2 separate regions of the Homo sapiens genome follow, and region 2 is linked to region 1. Evidence: fine-mapped expression QTL. Tissue or cell type: aorta. Region 1 holds a variant in brackets; the other region holds the start of a gene. All regions are shown on one strand. Distances are between the middles of the regions.

Region 1 (4,402 bases):
AGATCGTTGCCAAGTACATCAGCCCCTCTGATTCTCACAGTATTCCCGGGAGATGAGTATGAACAAGGATTATGAAAGAGTGAGAGTGACAGAGAGAGAAAGAGACAGAGACAGAGAGATAGATTAATATTAAAGTATAATATACAAACAGGTGTGCATATTATAAGTGCACAGGTCTCTGGATATTCATAAAGACTATTATTTAACTTCATTTTACTAAAAGAAAACTTAGGTTTAATGATGTGATATTCTGAAGTCTGTTTATGTGTCAAGCAATGGAGGCAGTATTCCAGATTACATCTCTTAATGTCCATGATTTGAAATGGATTTTTAAAATATTTAAAGTTTTGATTTTGATTTCTTTTGAGAGCAATATAATTTAATGGAAAATGGCAATGCCTTTATCTTATTAAGTTCATTACCACAAGTGGTTATATGAGAGGGAAATCAGGTGCTTTAAGCCATCCGCTCTTCTGTATTAAAACTCTTTATTTGGGGAATGAGAGTTCTACTGAAGTGTCTTAAGTAAAATTTGATTAAACTTAAGTAAAATTTGTTTAAAACTTGCAAGATGAACTTCATGGTTAAAGTCTAAAGTTTGCAGATTCAGAAAGACTTGAGGAAGGAACAGTGTACTTGAATTTTTTTTTGTAACATTTAATTAGTAGTGCATTGTTTACATCAACACTTTGTGGAATATTTTGGAGACTCAACAAAGCCTTCTTAAGGGTGGCCTGATCCTCGGCTTCCAAGTCTGTTTTTTAGCAGTGAAATGGCTTTCTTGTTCCCACATTTCAAAAAGAGGAAAACATTTCTGTCAGTTAAGCGAAGGGAGAGAGGAAGGTCTCACAATTGTGGTCGTGGTCAGGGGCGGAGACCTCTCCCCTTAGGATGCTCTACTTTTCTCCCTAGGGGGAGGTGACTGGGAGGGGACCTTTCTTCCAAGGTTTGGGAAACCTGGTAGATTCCTGCCTCTCTGGATGCTTTAATGGGGTCCCTGTGTGAAAGCAGGGGCTGGGGGTGTGTTACAAAGTCCCTTCCAATTCCATGAGAGCAGAATTTAGGGCAATTAGAAATTATCCCACCTGAGTCATCTTTCCCCTTCAAAGTGGTGTCTGAGGACTTTCTCAATTGACTCTGGAACAGGAGCAGAAAAACCCAATCAATTAGCCAATATCCAGTGACTGAGATGGACTGTCTCTGTCTGGGAATCGCTGGGGAAGCAGAGCCTGGAAAGGAGATTCATCTGGCAGGGGAGGGAAGATGAACGCTAAGGACTGGGAGAGCTGGACCAGTCAAGCTGAATTGGGCCTGACCCCCCAGTCCCACTCATAGTTAGACTCCAGACTCCAGACTCCAGACCCCAGGCAGTCACTTGAGAGGTCCAGCAGCTATGGCATGACAGGCAGTGGCCAGAGGAATTGCTCTCTGCCCCAGCCAGGCGGGAGCTTGCTCTGCCAGCAAAACCTGCAAGTCATCCTGCTGTAGCTGCCGGCCTGCAGAGACCAGCCCTGGTGGCAAGGAGGAGGTGTGAGGAGGAGGGAGCCTCTGGCAGCTTTTTGTTTCAGGCTAGAACTTTCTAGCAAGGCTTCAGAGCTGTCTGACCCACCTGCTGACTTATTCTCCCCTGCATTCCACTCCCCAAAGGCCACATCCGTCACACGCTGGCTTCCCCAGCCCAGGCATTCTCTCCTCGTGACATTGAGGCTGTGGAATTGTCCCTCCCTCCCTGGATCCCTGAGAACCCAGGAAGCCCACTTTCCCTCAATCACAGGCACATGGAGAGAATGAATTTCGTTTGGTTCATGTAAAGTTGGCTGGGTGATTTTGTTATTTTACTGGAACTAGTTGCCCACCTTTAAAAACTGGGAACTTTCACATATAAGCCCAGACTTCCTGCTTCTCTTGAAAGCCACTCTGGTGACACC[G/A]GGCCTGAGTCCCCATGTCGTCATGGAGGGGGTGTGCCATCTCTAGTGGCAACAGTTCTCACCTCTTCCATTTCTTGTGCCCCATTTATATGCCTCGCCCTCTTGGCCACAGAGTTAGTGCAAGCTCATCCTGGCACCTACAGAGGTGGAGAGCAGAGTGGGTGGTGTTCTGCCCCTGGACCACCTCCCCAGGGGACTGTGGGACTTCGTCTGCCTCCATAGCATCTGAGCCTGATCACCATCATGGCCCTTCCCATTTGTATTGAAATGATCCACTTTTTCCATGAGGATTATGGCCATTTATGGGCATTGGTTTAAATCTCCTTCCTCTCGCCTGGGGTCAGTTCATCTAATCACTTTTGGAGATGAATTTGGGGAAGTGATTCTCCACCTCCAAGACCCAAGGAAGGCTAAGTGGATCCAATGATTTTATTTCATTTTGAAGATGAAGAAACTGAGTCTCAGAGTGGTGTGTGGCATAGCTGACCTCTGCTAAGGAAGATCCTCCAGTGTGTGGCCTCCCTCTAGGTCACTGTCTACCCCAGGGTGGGCAACGGCATCCTTCAGGCAGGGGCTCTGGTGGGGGAGCCATAGTGGGAGAGTCCCTGGGTTGCCAGTTCCTATAGAAAGGCACATCACCGGCCGGGCGCGGTGGCTCACGCCTGTAATCCCAGCACTTTGGGAGGCCGAGGAGGGCGGATCACGAAGTCAGGAGATCGAGACAATTCTGGCTAACACGGTGAAACCCCGTCTCTACTAAAAATACAAAAAATTAGCCGGGCGAGGTGGCGGGCACCTCTAGTCCCAGCTACTCGGGAGGCTGAGGCAGGAGAATGGCGTGAACGCCGGGGGCGGAGCCTGCAGTGAGCCGAGATCGAGCCGCTGAACTCCAGCCTGGGAGACAGCGAGACTCCATCTCAAAAAAAAAAAAAAAAAAAAGTAAAAAAAGAGAAAGGCACATCACCCCTAGAGTGTTCTTCTCAGAGGGCCCACGTGGAGGATGCTGCCTGGCAGCCTGAGGGCAACAATCCAGCAGGTGAGCCCATGCCCTGCTCTGCCATCCATGCTCTCCCCTGAAAGGGGGCTCTGTGGAAGAGCCAGGTCCGCTGCACTCACCATCATTTCCAGTTGAGTGCCGTAACTAGGAGCTGTTCCCTCTGCAGGCAGGGGAATGCCAAGTGGGCCAGGAAAGCACAGTCAGTGGAGGAGGTGAAGAACTGTTTGAAAAAACTTCTTTCTCCAGCTTCCTCTTCAGCATATTCAGAAAGCTGCCTTCAGTGCCCTGTGGCTAGAAGGCAGGCTTTATAGCTCTGGGTACGTGTTGGGGTCCTCTTGGCTGGCATAGGTTTATAGCAAGAATTACTGGCCTTTGGAAGGGGTCAGAGAAGGGCTCCTGAGGACTTTAGTCTTGAAGCATGAGTTTGCAAGCCCAGGGGCTGGTGTGTGTCAGGGTGGTGGGGGGTATGTTTTGGTTAGGGGGATAGGTCTTGTCCTCAGGAAGACGAGGCTTGAGCTGTCTCCAAGTGAGCTCCACATGTGCTCTGTGTAGGGTAGAATTCCTGCCTCAGTAGCAGTGGTTGACCAGTTGTCCCAATAACAGGACACTCCATGTATTGGGAAAATTTAAAGGGGTTTTTAGCTCTGCCTCATTATTTTCTAACTGTGGAGCATCAAAAAGCCCAGAACCTCACTGTAAAGTGGGGATAATAACTCTTGCCCTCCCTGTCCTTCCATTTCATTGTGACTTCAAGTGAGAGGGTATTCATGGTGTGAAGATGTTTTGCAAGTTGTCAAGAGCCTTGCCGGGGAATAAGGTACAAGCTGAAAGCCCAACCCCTCCATCTCCATCCTCTGAAGCTCAGCTGGCCTGGTGGGGAGGTGGCCTTCTCTTGGAACTATCTGTCCAGCCCTATTTTCATGTACTCCACAGTGGGAATGTCAGACTTAGAGCTCTCATTGGAGGCAACAGGAAGCCGCCCATCTTCCCAGAGTATTGCATGCGCTGGAAGACTTGGGAGAAATCATGGTTTTTATATTAAAATAAACACTCATATATGATTATGTGCAATGCAAAGGTTCATGAATTTTAATGTTAAAGCAGGAGCAAAGAAATGTGCTTGTGGAGGGATGAGAGATGGAGGCTGCTTCCTGAGAGGACTCAGGGGGCTTCAACATTGTCTTCTGCCATTAAAGGTGTATTAGTGAAACATGTGAGAAACACTCTCATGGTGAGGAGGCACTGTGCTGGCCTCTGCAGGAGGAGAAGCAATGTTGAGGAGAGGGGACTGGCCCTGAGGGAACTCCACAAAGGGCAGCTTCCTTACCAGGCTATATGGGAGCACAGATAAAGGTACCAGAGGAAAGAGAGCTCATGACTGGCTGGAGGGATGGAGGTGATCGAAGGAGACTTCCTGGAGGAGGAGGAGAGATTTCAGGAGCTCACACACACATACTCAGAAGTGCAAGTCATGCTT
Region 2 (4,402 bases), 420 kb before region 1:
GGGGCCAGTTGCTGTTTTTTCATGCAGTGCCCTGGGAGTCTTAAAAGCAGTGCTTAGCAACATTGGTGATAGCATGTGGCTGGGACCCAGGGCCCTTCCCCACTCTTCAGCCCCGAGTCATGTGTCTGAGGTGACGGACTGAGACGCATCTGGTCCTGTAATTCAGAGAGTGGGCACATCACCAAAGAACTGCATTGCTGTGGTCACTGTTTCTTCAAGTACACACTGACTCTGCTACTTTAGGATAAATATATTTTACTCAGAACTCTGAATTTCACAGTATACTTACTAAACTAAGTAAAAATGATACTTAAAATACTTATTTTACTTTCTAGACCTAGGCTAGATGTTTTAAGCTACAGCTCTAGTTCATTGTGATATTTATAATTTGAAAGCTATGAGAATAGATGTGTGGGTGAAGCCATAGAACATATTTGCTTGAAATTCTTGAGCAGGGATCTTATAAAGGGCCAGAAATAAGATGTGTGGTTCACATAGATAGTGAGCGTAACATCTGTATTAAACATAGGAGAGAAGTTTATAAAGGGCATTGGCAATAAACTCTTTGTTGCAGCTGTTTTCCAAGCAGTGTAAATACTTTTTCCTGTGATTATGTATAGCCTTGGAATGGCACCTTTTAACTAACCCATATGTGTTTGGTTTCAATGGTTTTTTATATTCAGATGTATATATGGTGCTCACTTTAGGATCAGCAGTGTTGACCATTTATGCTGCATAGCTGTATTATAGCCTTATTAGTTGTGTGGTTGACCCTTGGGGTATACAAATGTCAGTCTGAGTGGTGTCTTACTCCTTTGTTTATAAGTGAATGATTGTGCATGTTTTGTATGTCATAGTATGTCGTCACATAAAAGGGAGGGAGCGAAAAACCATTACATTAAGATAATATTGGACCAAACTACTTACTTGCTCTAAACAGTTACTTGTACCCCTTAACCTGTCTTCAAAAGTTGCATATAGTTACAGTAGTGTATAAATTAAATATTGTGGAAAAACAGTCTTGTATTTTTCTGTATGTGTGTATATATATATAATTATGTACTTCTGGCAATTCTATCTGTATTTAAAGATGTGACAATCTTGACACCAATTTTAAGAATAGCTGTGAGACCGAATTAAAGATAATCCCTACCAAGTGAAAATTGATGTGTGTTAAGAGGGTACAGAATTATCAACTGATTTGGTCAGTTGCTTCCAATGCTGGTTGATTTCCCTCATTGTGTAAACATTGACAGGTATGTGACAAATGGGAAAAAAAATCCAAATAATAAAGTGACATATTGGTGTTCAGCAATATAAACCGTGTCCTGTGTTGTATTGCTTCTCATGAGTGTAGCTTTGTGTGATCCCACCTCAGTTAGACCCAGCCTTCTCCATGCCCTGTGCCTGCACCACCAGATTTGGCTGAAAAAGTACAGTCATTATTATGTTTAAACTCATGGCTACAAATCATAGGTGGGGCCAGGGTGCCCATTAAGTATACTTACTTTATTTCTCTATTTCATCTCCTTTCCTCACTCTGCTGGTCACCATGCTGCCTAATTGAATAAAGGGAAGCAATGAGAACTGCCACAAGTTCCCACCTCTGCCTTCCTCCCTTCCTTCATACACATTCACATGCTCTGCCCTTCCTCCTGTTACTGTGATTCCAAGGTCAGCTACTCTTACTCAGTTCTCACAACCATTACCATAATTGACTTTTACAACCCCCCCCCGCCCGCCAAAGAAATCTTGTGCCCTTTGGCATACTTTACCTTGTCCGCAACTCCCTTTACTCCAGCCTCATGCAACCACTTCCTGTGATCAATTTTCAATCCCATGTTAGAATTTGATGAATTGCTCACTTTCTTCCTTATGAACTTCCCATCTTTCAGTATCTCACTTCTGCCTTGCTGCTCTTCATGTCCACTGGTCCTTCCTCATTCTTCCAACCTCTAAATTTGGAATGTCCCAATGTTCAATTCTGGACCCCTGCTCTATCTGCAGTGACTCCTGATCTCAGTTAGTCTAGTATCTATATGCTGATAGAAGCCCAAAATATATTTAGCCCACATACCCTGGGAACACTGGATTTCAACTATCTATTTGACTTTTCTTCTTGGATGTGTCTGTGTGTCTACAGCATCTCAATTTTTACAAGTTCAAAACCCCTAATCTTTCCCCTCAAATCCTTTTACTAGCGCACCCATCTTAATAAATATCAACTCCTAGCCTTCAATAGTTTCATTCAAGCTGAAAATCTTGGTGTCATCCACTTTTTCATCCCAACATTCAGTTTATGAGCAAATCTTAACTTGCCTTTCACAGTTGACTCCTTCTCATTGCCACCACCACTACCACTCTAGTCCATGACACTCAACTGTAAATGCCTCTTAAAGGGTTTCCCTGCATTTGCCCTTGTCTTTCTCATTTATTTTCCACTTAGCAGTATGAGAGATCATTTTAAAGGCTAAATCATACCATGTTTTGAAACGTGTTTAGTTTCCAAATATTTGGGGTTTTCCCACATAGGTTTCTATAATTTTTAGTTTAATTCTATTTTTATCAGTGCATGCTTTCTATAGTTTAAATCTTTTGAAATTACTGAAACTTGTTTTATGGCCCAACATACGACCTATCTTGGTGAATGTTTCCTGAGTGCTTGGAAAGTGCTATTGGTGGAGTGTCCTATACATGTCAGTTCGTTCAAGTTGGTTGATAATGTTCAAGTTTTCTATATTCTTACTGATTTTCTGTCTCAATTATTGAGAGAGGAGTGTTGAAATCTCCAACTATAGTTGTGGATTTGTCTATTTCTCCTTTTAGTTCTAGCAGTGTTATTTTAGAAAATTTGAAGCTCTGTTGTTTGGTACATAAGCATTTAAGATTGTTACGTCATATCAATGAATTGATCCCTTTCCTCATGAAATGTTCCTTCTTTATGACTGGTAAACTATTTGTTCTGAAATCTACTTTGTGTGATAGTGATACAGTAACTCCAGCTTTTTTTTGACTTGTGAGAATATATCTTTTTCCATTCTTTACTGTTAACCTATTGTGTCTTTATGTTTAAAGTTTGTTTTTTGCAGATATCATATAGTTCGAGCTTGCTTTCTTATCCCATCAGCAAATGTCTGTCTTTGATTGAGGGTTTAGATGTATTACATTTAGTGTAATTGTCAATATGGTTGAGTTTAAACCTACCTAGTTTTCTATTTGTCTCGTCTGTTCTTTTTCCCTCTTTTGCTACCTTGTTTTGGTTTAACTGAGCACCTTTTGTTACTCCATTTTATCTCCGCTATTGGCTTATTGGCTGTAACTCTTGTTTTTCAGGGGGTGCTATAAGATTTGCAATACATGTATTTTATTATATCACAGTCTATCTTAATATATCACTTCATGTAGAATATAAAAACCTTACAACTGTATGCCTCTATTTTCCTCTTCCTGTTCCTTATACTACTGTTGTCATACATTTTATTTTTGTATATGTATAAATATTGTTTTAACTAGTTTTTAAGGGATTAAACAGGGGGGGGGGGAGTATTTTAGCTACATATTTGTCATTTGCAGCACTCTTCATTTCTTTGTGTAGATCCACAGTTTGGTTTTCCTTCTGCCTGTAGAACATTCTTTAACATTTCATATAATGCAGATCTGCTGGCATTACATTCTGTCAGCTTTTGTTTTGAAAAATTACTTTTCCTTTATGAAAGATATTATCATTGGGTATAAAAATTCTTGATTCATTTTTATTGCAATGCTGGACACTGAATTTTGCATTGTTGAATGCTGGAATTTTTTGTATTCGTGTGAGAAGTATTGGATTTCATTTTGGACTGCAGTTATTTAAAATCATTGGATCCTTCATGTCTCACTTTTAAACTGTTAGGGCAGATCCTGAGCAGTCTTCAGTCTAGGGCTAATTTGGCCCACTACTGAGGCAATACCTCTCTAGGGACTCTATTGAGGCTTTTCTACTCTGGCTGGTAGGAACATGAACTATTACCAGCCTTGGGTAAGTTCTGAGCATTGTTCAGCCTGCTGCTTTCCAGTGGTTCTTTCTCCAGCCTCAGGTAGTTTTCTCATAAGTACTGATCAGTACTCAACCAAAGACCACAGATTTTCTTTTGGAGCTTGCTCACTATCTGTGCAGCTCCCTCCTCTCTGCCCTGCACATTGATCTTGAACTTCAAACTACCTGCTCAACTCAACCAGACTATTTGGGCTTTCCCTCTCTGTGTTCTGGCAACTGCCTTTGGGCAGTGAGCTGGGGCATTCAACTCAGGGCTCACCTCATTTGCCTCCCTTCTCTCGGGGTGACAGCCCTATGCTGTCTGTTGCTCAATGTCTGGAAACTATTGCTCCATATATTTTGTTTGGTTTCCTAGTTGTTTAAGGC

What was found. PIP is the estimated chance that this variant, and not a neighbour inherited with it, causes the effect.
Region 2: SNRK-AS1 starts here. The variant in region 1 is the best candidate, but not a certain one, in a credible set for the expression of SNRK-AS1 in aorta (GTEx, PIP 0.57).

Annotation. Positions count from the first base shown.
Region 1 is chr3:43,771,940-43,776,341 of GRCh38, forward strand. No RefSeq gene overlaps it. Among named protein-coding and RNA genes, the nearest start is that of ABHD5, 83 kb to the left of the region's middle. RefSeq lists an enhancer at 1,392-1,918. The variant G/A (reference allele first, on the strand shown) is at 1,929.
Region 2 is chr3:43,349,823-43,354,224 of GRCh38, forward strand. SNRK-AS1 (SNRK antisense RNA 1) reads right to left here and starts at 2,140. Exons shown (of 3, transcript NR_046757.1): 1 at 1,776-2,140; 2 at 1,509-1,559; 3 at 1-155. SNRK (SNF related kinase) reads left to right here. Exons shown (of 7, transcript NM_017719.5): 7 at 1-1,321.